2 separate regions of the Homo sapiens genome follow, and region 1 is linked to region 2. Evidence: fine-mapped expression QTL. Tissue or cell type: monocytes after LPS. Region 2 holds a variant in brackets; the other region holds the start of a gene. All regions are shown on one strand. Distances are between the middles of the regions.

Region 1 (8,108 bases), 130 kb after region 2:
TCTTTAGGGGATGGGATAAGGAACAAAACTTACAGAGGGAAGAGTTAGATGGAGGGCAACTAGGACACAGCGGCTGGAAATCAAGGGAAGAACATTCTAAGAGGAAAGGGCTTGTCAGCACTGCCAAAGGCTGCCAAGAGGTTGGGGACTCTGAAGGCAGAGGAGACTCCTGTTAGCTCGATGAGGAGGATGTCCATGAAGATCTTTGTAAAAGGGATTTCAATAGAGTGGAAGCAGCAGTTTTCAGGGTAAGAAGTGACTGCAGGAAGTGGAACCTACTTCCAGGAGTTTCATGGAGAAGGAAAAATGAAGATTAGGATGGCAGCTAGAAAGAGTAGCTAGGTGAGGAGCGGTAGGAAGGGGTGGGATGGAGAATGGGTGAAGCCAGCAAGGAGGATGAATGAAGTAATGTCCTAGTAGAGGGATGACAGGGAGGGTGCTGTGTTATAGTCTCAACGTCTGTGTCTTCCTAAAACTCACACGCAGAAACCTAATTTCCAAGGTGATGGTATTAGGAGATGGGGCATTTAGGAAGCAATTAGGTCATGAGGGCTGTGCTCTCATGAATGGGATTAATGCCCTTGTAAAAGAGTCCAGGAAGCTCGCTAGCCCCTTCTGCCACGTGAGGACACAGTTAGAAGGTGCTATGAGGAACAGGCCCTCACTGACACCAAACTGCCAGTGCCTTGATCTTAGACTTCCCAGCCTCCAAAACTAAATTTCTGTTGTTTATAAGCCCCCCTCCCCCACCCGCCCCAGTTTATGGTACTTTTGCTACAACACGCCAAACAGTCTAAGACATACTACTTTCTGAGAAAAGTGAAAGAAATAGTGTGGAGATTTCAAAGGTATTTTTCAGGTAGAAGGCATGACTGGCAGAGATCAACTCAAATGGCTATGCACTGGGGCCATAAGCTTAAGCATCTTACTATAAATATATTCTCTCTGGGTTTTTTCAAGTACATATCATCCACCCTCCGAAAAACACCTGTGAGGACTGCCCTCTTGCTCTCTCTTTTAATGGGTAGAGGGTTAGCTACTTTTGAATAGTAGCTCATATTCTTGTTGGCTGATGAGTACAAAGCTTGGCACTGACATACTAACATTAGAATCATGCTTTCAAAACACCAAAAATTCCTCGATGGTATTGACTTTCTTTAAAAATATCACTGGAATTGTCAAATTTACCACTGCAGTATTATTTGAATGAAAACGATTAGGTTGAACTGTATAAAATGGTCCATACTTGAGCACTTTTTATACCAAAAAAACAGCAGTTTCAAATAATGCTACCTTATACAAAACCTACCTCAGGAATAGCCAACATAACAAGCAGCTTCTTTCTCTTTTCACATTCAAAAACCCTATATGCTTGGAGGCTGAGATAGCTTCCATCCATACTAAGTGGAATCTTTTTTATTTTTCATGAATGCAAACTCAGTAAGACAGACAATAGCCCTTCCCCCAAACCCTGCCATATTAATGGCCATTATTTGTAGGGCAGCTAGTTTGGGTGGGGGAAATAGATCAAGCAGACAAAGCTAACTGCTAAATCCGAGAACTCATTTACCCATGACATTAATCTCATATGGCACCATTTTCTATCAGGATTGTTCAGTCCTTATATTTACTAAAAAAAAATTGGGACAAAGTGTAAATTTGCTAACCAATGTAATTGATCAATAGATCGTTATTTAAATAATTTATTTCAATTCCCCTCTATATTTGTAAGGACAAACAGCAGACTTCTAAAGCTTTTTCCAGTAACTTCCTGATTTATGTATTCTTCACATAAAAACTGTGCTTCTACACAAAATTAGTGCTTCAGATGAGTCAGAATTTAGAAGAAGTAAATGTATAACCCAGTTTAGGTAATTGTTTAAATGGGTTAAGGAAAAGCTTCCAGCTTCCCCTTTTTGAGCCTTGATTACTACTTTCCTTCCCCCAGGGCTTCTAGCCTGCTTACCAAAAAAAGAGACAGAATTTGCAATTCTATGAATTATTGCACAATGTAAACCCAGTTTCCTCCTATATACATAGCAAACATAGAATTCAAATACACAAAGCACATACACTTGAGAATCACACTCAGACAACTTAACCAAACAACAAAAACACACCAGCCCCCAAAGGATCCCACCAGTGCACCTATCCATCAACACCCGCCAAGCCAGTCTGGCAGGCATCCGTCACCCAGCAAGTGGTCCCAGTAACTTCCCCTGCAGGCCCTAGGTCTGACTCTTAACCTCACACTATCATATGTACCTAGAGACATGAGCACAATTCAACTCAATCAATGTTTATTAAGCAACCTCTTTGTGCTGAATGCTGTATTCTTTTCTTTTAATTCTTCAGCCATAGTCCTGGTCACACCAAATGCAGCTTGGTTTAGTTCCCCAATCATCCCAGCCATTCGGGTCCCTGCACTGGCTCCATCCAGTCTCTCTAAAGCAAGAGTTTTGTTTGTTTGTTTGTTTTTTTAGATGGAATCTCACTCTGTCACCCAGGCTGGAGTGCAGTGGCTCAATCTTGGCTCACTGCAACCTCCACCTCCCAGGTTCAAGCGATTCTCCCACCTCAGCCTCCCAAGTAGCTAGGGCCACAGGTATGTGCCACCATGCCCAGCTATAAAGCAAGAGTTCTTAACTGGGTCCACATGTAGGATTAAAGGGTCCATAAACTAGGGTGAAAAATAATCTTACATCTTTATTTTCATTTTTGCCTCTAATGGAAATTTAGTATTTTCTTCAGTTATGTATGTAGACAACCACAGATATCTTCATATCACATTACAACTACTTAAGATATATTGAAATGTTATTTATACTCATCATTACTTTGAAGTTTGGTGGTTAAAAGACCTACCTGTAGATTTTGTTATGTAATGCATAAATAAGAAGCAAATAAATTACTGCATTATAATTTATTTAAAATATTTTGATACCTGTATTTCAATGTGACTGATTTCCTCTGTAATTCTATGCATTTTATTTTATGCATTTTAAACATTATTCTGAGATGGAGTCTATTCTCTTTACCAGATGTTAATGAAAACTGTAGCATAAAAAGTACCTGCTATCTGGTTTGAAACTATTCCATTACCTGCTCAACTCATCTGACTCTCCCTTCTACCTCCAAATTTTCTCTTCTTCCATCCTATTCAAACATAGATAAATGCCCCTAGATCAGGCAAGCCCCTCTGCATGGCCCTCAGTAGAGCCAAGTGAATCTTCCTGTTCATTTCTCAGTCTCTCAGTAGTCAATTTCCACTTCCACTCGCAGGTGAAATCTAGAACCTTCTTTTAGCATAGTCTAAAACTACTAAGTACTTTCATAACCTTTCTTTCCATCCAGTCATATCTGCAAGGCATAGTTATCCCATCAAGCCTTAATATCAGGCAAACCTTAAGGTCTCCTCTCAGTTTGGGACACAAAGCTTTTTTACTGTCTCTTGGGATGATCGGCCCAGGAAGATGAGTAAAGCCAGGGCCAAGCAAAACTGACAGATCTGGCAACACACACAAATGTTAAAACCAATGGAATCTTGTGCATGGGACTCAACCAAGCATTGTGACTCCCTGGAACTCAAGGATGTCTAGGTAAGCCAAGAACTGTCATTAGTAAGTCAAAAATTATTGCTAACATCAGAAATATATGGCATAGTTGTTCCTGTAGAGACCAAATTGTCCTGTTCCATCACTCAGCACCCTGAGTTGATGAACTCCTGTGACAAGAGAAACATAAAGGATTATGAAACTTACTCAGAAGGAGAAAGAAAGATGCCACATATGAGATGCCTGCCATTTGGGCCAGCACAGTCCTTTTTCGTCCCAATAGTGTCACTAACATTCAGAGGTTGAGTGACAAATGCTGTGCTCTCACTGCAAAGTAAAGAGGAAGCAAAAGTGTGGTTTTCAGCCCACTGAGAAATAGAGATGTCTTGTGAAAAGCAAAACTGGTTACATTATGTAGCTCTTTACTAATCACTCAAATTTGGGAGTAAAAAAGTTATCTTTGTGGTTAAGTAAACAGATATCGATAAAACTAAGAAAAGATGGGTCTCAACCTGGCTCACAGTATGTGTCATTTGGTAATGATGAGAGAATTTAGGTAAACTGAATAAATAAAAAAGGCACCAGCAATGTTGTCTTCTTGGCCCTTCCTTCTCCTCCTCTCTTGAGAGAGGAAATGACTGAGAAATGGGAGAAGGCCCCTGAAAAACATGAACTTGGGGCGACATGAGGTGGTGCTGAAGGTTACAGGCTCTAGAGTCAGGCTGCCTGGGTTTGCATGCAGATTCTAGTTTTAGTAACTGTGCAATCTTAGAAAACTTAATTAACTTTTCCTAACCCTCATTGCTAAAATGAGGATACTAATAGTAGGTACCCTGTAAGATTACTGTGAATGCCAAATGAGCTAATTTTTTAATTATTTTTTTATTTCTTTTTTTTTGTATTTTACTTTTTTTTATTATTATTATACTTTAAGTTCTAGGGTACATGTGCACAACGTGCAAATTTGTTACATATGTATACATGTGCCATGTTGGTGTGCTGCACCCATTAACTCGTCATTTACATTAGGTATATCTCCTAATGCTTTCCCTCCCCCTTCCCCCGACCCTATGACAGGCCCCGGTGTGTGATGTTCCCCTTCCTGTGTCCAAGTGTTCTCACTGTTCAATTCCCACCTATGAGTGAGAACATGCAGTGTTTGGTTTTTTGTTCTTGAGATAGTTTGCTGAGAATGATAGTTTCAAGCTAATTTATTTAAAGCACTTAGAACAATATCTGGTACATAGTAACTGCTCAATGAATATTAGCTACCATCATCACCATCATGAGACATTTAAGTAAATCTTCATCTGCCCTGTGAAACTGCCTTTGCAAAAATTGTAACAGTGAGAAAGTTATGACAGTGAAAGGGATCTGACCTCACCATCTCCATCTTGCTTCTAACTTCCAAGCTGCCCTTGTTAATTCCTGGTTGTAGGCCAAACTAACTTTGGGAGGAATTTAGCTTAGTTTAATTTTGAAACAAAGAGGATAACAGCCCTTTCTGGAAACAAACCCCCTTCTTGCCTGGGGAGCAGACTTCCCTAGTAAGACTAACAAATTAGCCACAACATTAGAAATTATGGTTTAGGAGTCATGCAGCCAGAGGCCACACAATTCCAACCTCCCCAACTGTTCCTAGGGATAACATCACTATTGTAAAACCTAAATTGGTGCTCAAGGTATTTTTCAGACCCTGCATCCTGATGCACCAGCTGACACCATCCAGGCTGGTGATCTGGTTCCACCAGTTCTTTGATCCCACTTAGGAACGGAAGACTGCAAGAACCCCCTTTGATCCCCTGTGATTTCATCTCCTACCTGACCAATCAGCACTCCCCACTCCCTGGCCTGCCAAATTATCCTTACTAACTCCAGTCTCTGAATTTCCGGGGAGACTGATTTGAGTAATAAAACTCTGGTTTCCCATTTAGCTGGTTCTGTGTGAATTAAACTCTTTCTCTATTGCAATTCTCCTGTCTTGATAAGTCTGTTCTATCTGGGCAGCAGGCAAGGAGAAACCTGTTGGGCAGTTACGCTAATGGGCAGTTACACCGATGTGAACCCAGGTATCAAGGATGGCAGAGGAGTATCTAAATGCAACAGTTGGCCCTGAACCTAGACTAATACTACGCTAGTGCTAGAGTTCTCAGGAAGCTTCCACTTAAATCAGATAATCACAATGCAATGTGTCAACAATCAGTGGGGCACCTATAGGGGGTGGGGAAAATTGGTAGGCAGGAGGGAAGGTCAAGATGGATTGGGCTGGGCCAGGTGAGTCAATGAGTCATCTAGAGAGGCAGGGGGCCAAGGTACAGTTGGGGAAAAACCGTGTGGCATGAATAGTAACACACAGGCTGTACTATCTTGTTGGAATGAAGTTTGAGGTTGTTGTGAAAGAAGGATCTATACAGGTAGGATGGGCAGATCTTAGTGGGCTTCGTGTGCCAAGCCTAAGAGCTTGGCTTTTATTAATACCTCAAAGAAGAGGGAAGCTATGAAGATTTTTAGTGGTAGTATAGCCTGGTTGGATTTTCCGTTTTTCCTTTTAAGTTGAATTCTGTATGTGTGCATTGCTAACAGGTTGAAAGGTGAAGAAGGGAGACAAGGCTAGAAGCAAGAAGGTCAGTTACAAGGTTTTTGTAGTTGTCTCTATGAGCAATAATAAGGGCCTGAAGTAGGGCATTTAAAATAAAGACAGAGGCCGGGCGCAGTGGCTCATGCCTGTAATCCCAGCACTTTAGGTGGCAGAAGCGGGCGGATCACGAGGTCAGGAGATCGAGACCATCCTGGCTAACATGGTGAAGCCCCGTCTCTACTAAAAATACAAAAAAATAGCTGGGTGTGGTGGTGGGCGCCTGTAGTCCCAGCTACTGGGGAGGCTGAGGCAAGAGAATGGCATGAAGCCAGGAGGCGGAGCTTGCAGTGAGCCAAGATCACGCCACTGCACTCCAGCCTGGGCGACAGGGCGAGACTCCATCTCAAAATAAATAAATAAATAAAGACAGAGGTGGGATAGATAAAATAATCAAATAGTTACGGAATACTCCCTGTGCAGTAAGCACCCTACCATGTGCTGGACATCCATTAAGGACATAATTAAGCTGCAGCCTTTGATCTGAAGGAGCTGCTGCTTGTGCCATGTGGCATGGTGGAGGTGAGCAGGTAAGAACTTGACTGTCACATAGGGATATCAGAGAAGGAAGAGGGCATGTCTAATCTGGAGAGAATGAATGGGAGGTCAGTAAAATCTTCAGGGGAAAGGTGGCATTTTAAAGTAAAATTTATTTTCCTAGTGAGAATTATAGTAGAATGGGGTACATTCTACAAATTCAGGTCTGGAGGCATCTAACTTTATCTATCTATCTATCCATCCATACATCCATCCATCCCTCCATTCACTCATCCATTCTTCTGGTTTTATTCATTAGCAATGATACCTATTAGCCCTCCAGTGATGGTCAAACTACAAATATTGAAGTCTTAAGTGAAAGGCCCTGTACTTCCCTTTTCAAGATACTATGCAAGGCTTGGGGGATAAAAGAGGTGTAAGAGGGCCCTGCCCTCCAGGAACTTGGGGTCTAGTTTAATAAACAGCTGAGATAAAAAAAAAAAAAAAAACAGCAGCCATATACGGCAAACATGGGTCTGGTATCCGATCTATAGCTCAGGCAAGAAATAACCTGAATTAATAGGCTGAAAAGGCAGGGAACAGTCGCAGTAAGTCATTCAGAAGAGCCTGGTTTTAAAATTGGTCCTTGGACATCTAGTATGATGCAAATGGGCAGGAAGGAGAAGGACATTTCAGTGTGGACAAATACAATGTACAGAGGCAGAGGCAGAGTCAGGGATGTGCAGATTGTATTTTGGGAACAATTAAAGGGCAGTCTGCCTAGGATGGAGATTTCGAACAAACTCTCCAGGCTACTAACTATAAAATCAGTGAGGCTCAAGTTACAGGAATTTATTCACCATTTTAGTTGCAGAAGTTGGGGGTCACCCCCAGGCACCAACACTTTAAGCAAATGTGGTGAATGGAGTAGTTACTGCTGTGTAACAATCAGAAAACTTTGGTGGCTTGCAACAGCAAACATTTATTTCTGTTGACAAGCCTATGGGTCAGCTGGGTGGCTCTGTTAATGGGGCTGTGTCCTGCTGACAGGAGCTGGATGGTCTAGGATGGCCTTGGCTGGGATGACTCAGTTCTCTTCCACATGTCTCTCACATCTCTCTGGCAGGCTGGACTGGCACATTTTCATGGTAATGTCAGGGGTCCAAAAGAACTAGTGGAAACACAACAGCATTTTTTAAAGCTTCTACTTACATCATGACCACTACCATCCCATGGGCCAAAGCAAGCCACATGAAAGTCCAAAGGCAAGAGATGGGTTAATATATACTCTGCCTCTTTATGGAGGGGAACTACAAAGTGATAGAGCAAAGGGAGAGATTAACACAAACAAACTGAGGCCATCAATGCAATCAATCTGCCATGTGCACTGAAAAGAGAATTATTTTAGAAATAAGCATTGACCACAGAGACAATCATTGCCA
Region 2 (8,108 bases):
TTTCCCAGCTCTGTGATCATCAGCGATTTCAAATTTGCCAATGTAACCATGCTTCATCAACACAGTTAGAAACCAGATGATGACTTTGGAGCATAGCCTAATAAGAACCTGGCATTTGCCTCCTTTTCCAGTGTTGATGTTCTTGAGAGCATCAGCCAGGGCGTTCATGCATTCCATTATGGCAGCATGTAGAGATGGCGGAAGGAGGATGGGAAGGGAGGGCACATGGAGTTCCCCTTTTGAGGACACCCACCATACTGGATTTGGGCCCACCCAAATGACCTCATTTGACCCTAATTGCCTTTTTAAAGGCTGTATCTTCAAATAGAGTCATGTTCTGAGGTATCCTGGAGGTCAGGAATTTAACATATAAATCTGGGGTGGGGCGGGGGCACAGTTCCATCCATAACATGGGCATATATGAAGGAACTAATAAAAATTAGCTATTATTAAGTACGTGTGGTGGTCAGAGCGAATGAACATCAAGGAACCACAAAAGAAAAAACATGAACTTTGCTTTTTTCCCTCCATTTGACCAAGAATAGATGTTTAATGCTTGAACAGCTGCGGCACAACAGAAAGTCTTGTCCAAATAGCTACTGATAGCAAACCAGGCCAGAGGACACTTAAAAACTAGAGCACAATGGCTCAGCAGGTAGATGCTGTTAAGGGAACAGAATTGGCTAATGGCCTCCCCAAACCACAGGTTACTATTTTAAATGTTACAAAAGACCATAGATCATGAAAAGATAAAAAATAAACCAGTGTGGGTCCAATCTTCAAAGGAGGAGAATTGAGTGATAAAGGGGCAGTTTGTCTCCATGTGACTAAACTAAATTGCTGAGTGCTAGGGATGTTTTTAGGCTAGAGGTAGATTACAATCTTTTCTGTCCTGGGGCTCTCAGGATAGAAACCGGTGTGTGTGTGTGTGTGTGTGTGTGTGTGTGTGTTTTCTTTCCTTCACCCTTAACTTTTTGTAGTCCTTGAAGACTGAAAACACCTGTGTGCTGGCCAGTCAGGCAAAAGGGATACAGACACATTTACTTCTAGAGCTACGTAGTGTAAACATAAAAGAGGGCTTTTCTGGGGAAACACAATCAGATTTCAAGGAGCAGGGTAATCTCTGGGCCCTTATAGCACTTAGGCTGGGTATAGCTGTACTGGACTCATCAGGTTCAAGTGTTCCAGTAGAGAGTGACCCTTCCCCACAGTAATGGTCTATATTATATTTGCAGGAAAAGTAGGCAACCATGATGCTATGCAAGCCCTCAGTTGAAGAAATAGCCCTGTTGGAAATTGGAACCCCCAATGCTCAGGAGCTGTTATTAGGTTGTTCTTCCAAGGACTTCCAGGGCCTTTCAGATGTATATCTGCTCAGATAAAGAAAAGGAATAATCCCACCTCCCGAACAGCCATTGTAGGAGGGTCAGGCAATCCTCCCTACATACAAATGTCATTGAACTATTGATCAGCTGAAACTGCAACACAAAGGGTGACCACATGGGTGTGGCCACATGTGCATGTTGCCAGCTCCCTGCCAGGTATGGGAAGAAGAGGCCTGCAGGACTCTGCCCAGATTTGCATTATCGCTCAGGTGAACAATTGCCCCAGACTCTCAACTAGTCTTCCTGCCTTCATACTTCCAATTAGTGATCCAAGAACTACCCCCTACCCCCCACCCCACCCCCCACCCTTTTTTTTTCTTTGAGACGGAGTTTTGCTCTTGTTGCCCAGGCTGGAGTGCAATGGCGCGATCTCGGCTCACCGCAACCTCCGCCTCCCAGGTTCAAGCGATTCTCCTGCCTCAGCCTCCCAAGTAGCTGGGATTACAGGTGTCCACTGCCATGCCTGGCTAATTTTTTGTATATTTAGTAGAGGCGGGGGTTTCACCATGTTGGCCAGGCTGGTCTCAAACTCCTGACCTCAGGTGATCTGCCTGCTTCAGCCTCTCAAAGTGCTGGGATTACAGGCATGAGCCACCACCCCTGCCCGAGAACCACCCCTTTAAGGGATAATACAAAAATACAAGTAATTTGCTTCAGGAAGAGGAGAGCAAGCATTCATTACGCCTGCAGGTTCAAAACAGAAGAGTGATCAAGTTGAGAAATAAACAATTCTTTCCCAGGTCAATGTGTCATGGTGCGGTGGTTTGATCCAATAATTCTGGCAAAGTCCTATGCATGTTCTTGAGAGAAGGTGGGAAGATTGTCTTGATTGGAGCTGGGAAGACAGAGAGAAAATGGCCACTCACCTAGTGGGTTAAATAAGCCAAGAATCCTTTAGGACTGAAAATAGGTGATTCTCAGCTTTCTTTAATTAATGTGCAAAAGAACTTGGGTATGTACATAAGCTAAAAATTATTGACGATTTTTAATTTATGGAGAAAATAATTACTCCTAAATCCACCTCCCTAATAATGATCAAAATGTGTATGCTTTAGTCCTCATCCGTTTGCATACATATTTTGAAAAGCTGTGATCATAGCCTTTGTCTTGAATAAATGTATATTATTACATACCCAAATATTTGCTAATTTAGAAAACAATGGATTTACCAATTCCATCCATTTCACTTGAGAAATTTTCCATCTGGAGTACATCTTTCATTAGACAATAGTTCCTGCTGTTGAGGGCTGAAGTTGCAGCCTGGGTTATACCTCACACTTTTATACAAAAGGAAAGGTGTAGAATATGGTAAGGAGTGGTAGATTTTAAATGATGGACGCTAGATACAGGAGAAATGCCTGGACTCAAGAAAACAAAAAAAAAAAGAACATCTTACTTTCATGGCACATCCTGGCTTATATTAAAATCACCCTTAAAATGGGGCTAATAATGCCTACTTTAAAGGGCTTTTTGAGGAATAAATGATGGGAAATTGCACTGTAAACTGCAAGAAAAACAAAAAAAAAACAAAAACAAACAAAAAACATGATACATATGTAAGGTAGAACTGTTAGTATCACTCATGAGTCTGTTTCTCTTGCTAAACTCCAAATTCCTGAAAAACCATTCCCTTACTTTTCATCTTTGTACCATCCCCACTCTCCCCGACTTCCCACCTCCTACCGCACCTCCTGCAGAGTAAGACAGAGGCAGAAACAGCTCTTTTGGAGCTGAGAGAAACAACCAACCAATTTTTTCTAGGACTGTCAGGGATATTTCACCCAGAGTTTTACATGGCTAATGCGATCTAGGAGCTATTTTCAATATTTTATAAAAGTCTAACCTGAAATTATGCTGTTGTCATCAGTAAAGCTTTACAAACCAAATAAAACATCAAAGTTTTCTTTTTCCCCCCTTTTTCTTGTTTTTTCCTTCCTTTCGAATGGGGTTATATAAAGCAACTATGCATTTTATTGAAAAATCAATTATTACTTTAATAAATATTGTGAGATGCCCTGTCATAGTTTCAGAGGACAAAGAATGAATAAGATAAATCATAATCCTTGCTTTTAAGGAACTCATAGTGCAGTGAAAACAGACAAGTTTAATGTACACGTATAATATTGTATGACAAGGACAATAATAAGAACAATTACAATAAAGGAAATATATATGAGAGTCTTAACGCAGACTTTAGTGGGGTTAGGTGATCATGAAAGGCTTCCTGGAGGGAGTGAAACTTTAAAAGACCCCTGGGAGTTATCTAGGCAAAGGCTGTGTGTGAAGGACAAAGTGGGAGGCCAGACAATATGTTCCCTGCAGAGGGAGAAATATATGCAAATATCTAGAAGTGAAAGAAAACATGTTACCAAGAAACTGTGGTTCCATAGGACCCCAGTATAGAACTGGAGTACAGGAATGGGTAGAGAGAGGGTGTGGGGAAGTATGGCATTTTCCCCTTTTTTTTTTTTGAGACAGAGTCTCGCTCTGTCGCCCAGGCTGGAGTGCAGTGGTGCGATCTCAGCTCACTGCAACCTCCACCTCCCAGGTTCAAGCGATTCTCTCACCTCAGCCTCCTGAGTAGCTGGGATTACAGGCACCAGCTACCACGCTCACTTAATTTTTGTATTTTTAGTAGAGATGGAATTTCGCCATGTTGGCCAGGCTGGTCTCAAACTCCTGACCTTGTGATCCACCTGCCTCAGCCTCCCAAAGTGCTGGGATTACAGGCATGAGCCACCGTGCCCAGCCTTTCCCCAACTATCATTTGGAAAAATTTCACACCTAGAAAACATTTGAAAAAATAAATGCAAAGAACATTTATGTTTGCTTCACCTAGATAATACACACACGTACACACACATATGTACACACACA[C/TACGTACAC]ACACACACACACACACACACACAGAGAGAAATGAATTGGCAAAAAGGTTAACATCTGGTGATTAGTTGGTGGTAGAGATTTCTTTTTTTCTTTTTTCTTTTTCTTTTTTCTTTCTTTCTTTCTTTTTTTTTTTTTTTTGAGAAGGAGTTTCACTCTTGTTGCCCAGGCTGGAGTGCAATGGCACGAACTTGGCTCACTGCAAACTCCACCTCCTGGGTTCAAGCGATTCTCTTGCCTCAGTCACCCGAGTAGCTGGGATTACAGGTGCATGCCACCACACCTGGCTGATTTTTGTGTTATCAGTAGAGACAGGGTTTCACCATGTTGTCCAGGCTGGTCTCATACTCCTGACCTCAGGTGACCCACCCACCTCAGCCTCCCAAAATGGTGGGATTACAGGCAAGAGCCACCGCACCCGGCCAGTGGTAGAGATTTCTAACACTCCTCAGATACTTCCTTCCCACTAATCTGCAAATGTAAATCTTTCTATACTTTCATCTATTTTATACATTTTTCCCTCCTTAGGAAACTTTGGAGATTGATAGTTCATTAAAAAGTTCCATTGTTATGTGCACACACTCTAAGAATATCTAGTGTAGATAAACCAGTGTTAGTCAGCCTTTCATGACCAACCCCCTAAGGAACAATTTTAGACTCTTTTTTTTCCTAATCACCCCTCAGGAAACTTTAATCTATCTATCTATCATCTATCTATCTAGCTGTCTGTCTGTCTATCTATCTACCTATCTATCTATCTATCTATCTATCTATCTCTGGTTTTGTACTACATATATATCTGTGCTTTGTACACTAAAAGAGAAAGAGCTGGGGATAGTGGTGTGCACCTGTAGTCCCAGCTACTTGGGAGGCTGAGGCAGGAGAATTGCTTGAGCCCAGGAGTTCAAGGCTGCAGTGAGCTATAATTGTGCCACTGCACTCCAGCCTGAGTGACACAGTAACCTCCCATCTAAAATAAAAAATGTTTTTTAAAAGTAGGATTTTTTTTAACAATCCAAGAACCAAGTTCTGTCCATTTAGGGGCAATATTGCTCCCACTTAGAATGTCTGAGATAAACAGATCTAACATAAAGAAGGAATAAATCAGAATATAATAGAATGAACTCCTATTACAATTAGTTTTTAGAAAGAATATTAATATAGTAATAACATATACACGTAAGATAAGTTGTAAATTTTCTAATGGAAAACTGCTTGATTTTGCTGTGAACCTAAAACTGCTCTAAAAATAGTCTATACCTTAAAAGCTATAAAAATAAAAATATATCATATATATTATCATTTCAACATGCAATTCATATAAAACATTATTAACGAGATATTTTACATTCTTTTTTTCCATAATGAATCTTCCAAAACCAGTGTGCATTTTCCACTTACAGCATTGTCTTAATTTGGACCAAACACATTTGAAGTCCTCATATTGGACAACACAGGTCTAGAGCAATGGCAGTACCAAAGGTGGCTTGGAGGGACTTTACCCACCTAGACTCTTCCTACCTCACAATCTCTATCAGCATTGCTCCAGGCCACACTAGATGCATATATCAAAAAGTGCTTTACTCTGCAAATGCAGCTTCCAAACAAGTCTCTGAGCCTTTTTTCCACCCAGAGTGTTGCTTCTCAGCTCCTCAAACACAGAGATTCACCCGGCCCTCCCCAGTCCAGTGCTCCAGACAGTACTGTTCCAAAGATTTTCTTGACGGGATTCTGCCTAAAAGAGGGGCACGGAACACTGAAGAATAGAAGGGCTTTTATTACTTCAGAATTTCCTGAAGACATCATATACTCCTCATTAATAATAGGAGAAGGAGCTTTCAGGTCCTGAACACTGTGCAAAAAAGTGAAAAATTTACTAAAATGCAGTGCAGATTTAAATGCCATCTAGAAAATAGGTACTTAAGAAAAAAATAGTTGCTGTCAATATAGAAATAAATACCTAGGCTTTGCCCTAGTTGGTGGGGATTATTTATATTTCCTTGCATCTAGGAACATTTTTTTTTTTAATATTTCCTAGCAACATTCCTGGAACTAATGTATAGACCTCTCTGTATGCCATGATATATTATAACCTACTCATCCTCTAAATATTATTATCACGACATGGGCACACTTTAGCTCAGAAAAGTTAGTTGTCATTTGAATTAGAAAAGGCACTACATTAAATCATAGTCTGCCCTTATATATTCATCATTTTCAGGTTTTATCACTCAGAGAAGTGAGGAAAAAATGGCATTTATTTGCTTACCATTTTCAACAGCTCTTCCAAAAGAAGGGAAAGAAAGATAAAAAGTGGACGGACTATAAAATAAAAACAGACACAGTCTCACAGAATTCTGCAGAGAAAACTGCATGGCATGAGGTGGAATGCACGTTTAAGTTTAATTTATAGTCACAAAATTATTATTGCCTAACTCCCCCGTGAGTCCTTTGGAACAAAGGAGGAAACATTAAATATTTAAAAATTAGGGCTGGGCATGGTGGCTCAGGCCTGTAATCCCAGCACTTTGGGAGGTTGAGGCAGGTGGATCACCTGAGGTCAGGAATTCGAGAGCAGCCTGACCAACATGGCAAAACCCTGTCTCTACTAAAAACGCAAAAATTAGCCAGGTGTGGTGGTGTGCGCCTGTAGTTCCAGCTACTTGGGAGGCTGAGACAAGAGAATTGCTTGAACTCGGCAGAGGTTGCAGTGAGCCAAGATTGCGCCACTGCACTCCAGCCTGGGCAACAGTGCGAGACTCCATCTCTAAATAAATACATAAATAAATTTAAATAACATTGGTAAAATGTTATATGGCATATATAATCTTATGTGGCATTTTTTAAATTAAGAGGTCTTCATGGAAAATTCAAAATATTTTCCATCTTTACATCAAAACCTTTATAAATTAAGTATCTAATATTTTAATATAATTTAATAATATGACATGATATCTGGTATTTCCTTTGAAAACCTCCAGCAGAGAAAACAACATAAAAGTTGGGGAAGTATATTAAACAAGAGTGACAGAATGCTGTAACTGGTGATGTTGAGTGAGGGGTACTTAGGGGTTATTTATACTTTTCCCTATGCTTGTATATATCATATATCTGAAGTTTCCCAAATAAAAAAGTTTAAAAATTATTGATGATAAATTTTAAAATATGTGGGTATTTTTAATTAAAAAAATTATTAACTGGTTGTCTCTGACTCGAGGCCTGGCACGGGAGATTTACTATTTACTTATATTCTTGTAAATTGTTTGCATGTTTTTATCAGATACATTATTTACTCAAGAAAAAGTATATGTATATATGTATGTATACACACACATACCATACACACACACACACACACACACACACCAGTATTTTGGTACTGTACTTACTGCCTGAGGATACGGGTTATGCATTTAACTTCTCAGTTGCTTGCCCTTAGGTAAGTTGGGTAAGTTACTTCTGAGCATTCTTATGGAAGAATAACATTTAAATGAGGTAATGCATTTGAAAATATCCAGCACAGTGTCTGGCATAATACTGGCGTTCACTTAGTGCTGGTTTAAATTATATTAAATATGTGGAGAAACTAGATTTAATATAGGAGGCAGGCCTACCCCTAATATTTGAGTGGCCATGAGCAAGAGGACAAACAGGGGCATCCAGCCCATGGCCTGTTCTCATCTTTCTCCATCCTACCAGAGGCCCTTGCATATGTGTGTGGACACTCCAACAGGCTTGATCAAGTTCCACCATCCCCAAAAGCTGTCCTTTCACCACTCCTGAGGCCTAAGTGTGTGCACACTTACCCTGCAGTCTACAACTGCATGGGCCTGGGAGTGGGCTTCTGG

What was found. PIP is the estimated chance that this variant, and not a neighbour inherited with it, causes the effect.
Region 1: CD101 starts here. The variant in region 2 is fine-mapped to the expression of CD101 in monocytes after LPS (Quach 2016, PIP 0.95).

Annotation. Positions count from the first base shown.
Region 1 is chr1:116,997,514-117,005,621 of GRCh38, reverse strand. CD101 (CD101 molecule) reads right to left here and starts at 3,862. Exons shown (of 10, transcript NM_001256106.3): 1 at 3,762-3,862. The coding sequence starts at 3,804.
Region 2 is chr1:117,130,289-117,138,396 of GRCh38, reverse strand. The region is part of intron 1 of LOC124904387 (a long non-coding RNA gene); the gene reads right to left. It also overlaps the pseudogene RPS15AP9. Among named protein-coding and RNA genes, the nearest start is that of TRIM45, 13 kb to the right of the region's middle. The variant C/TACGTACAC (reference allele first, on the strand shown) is at 4,263.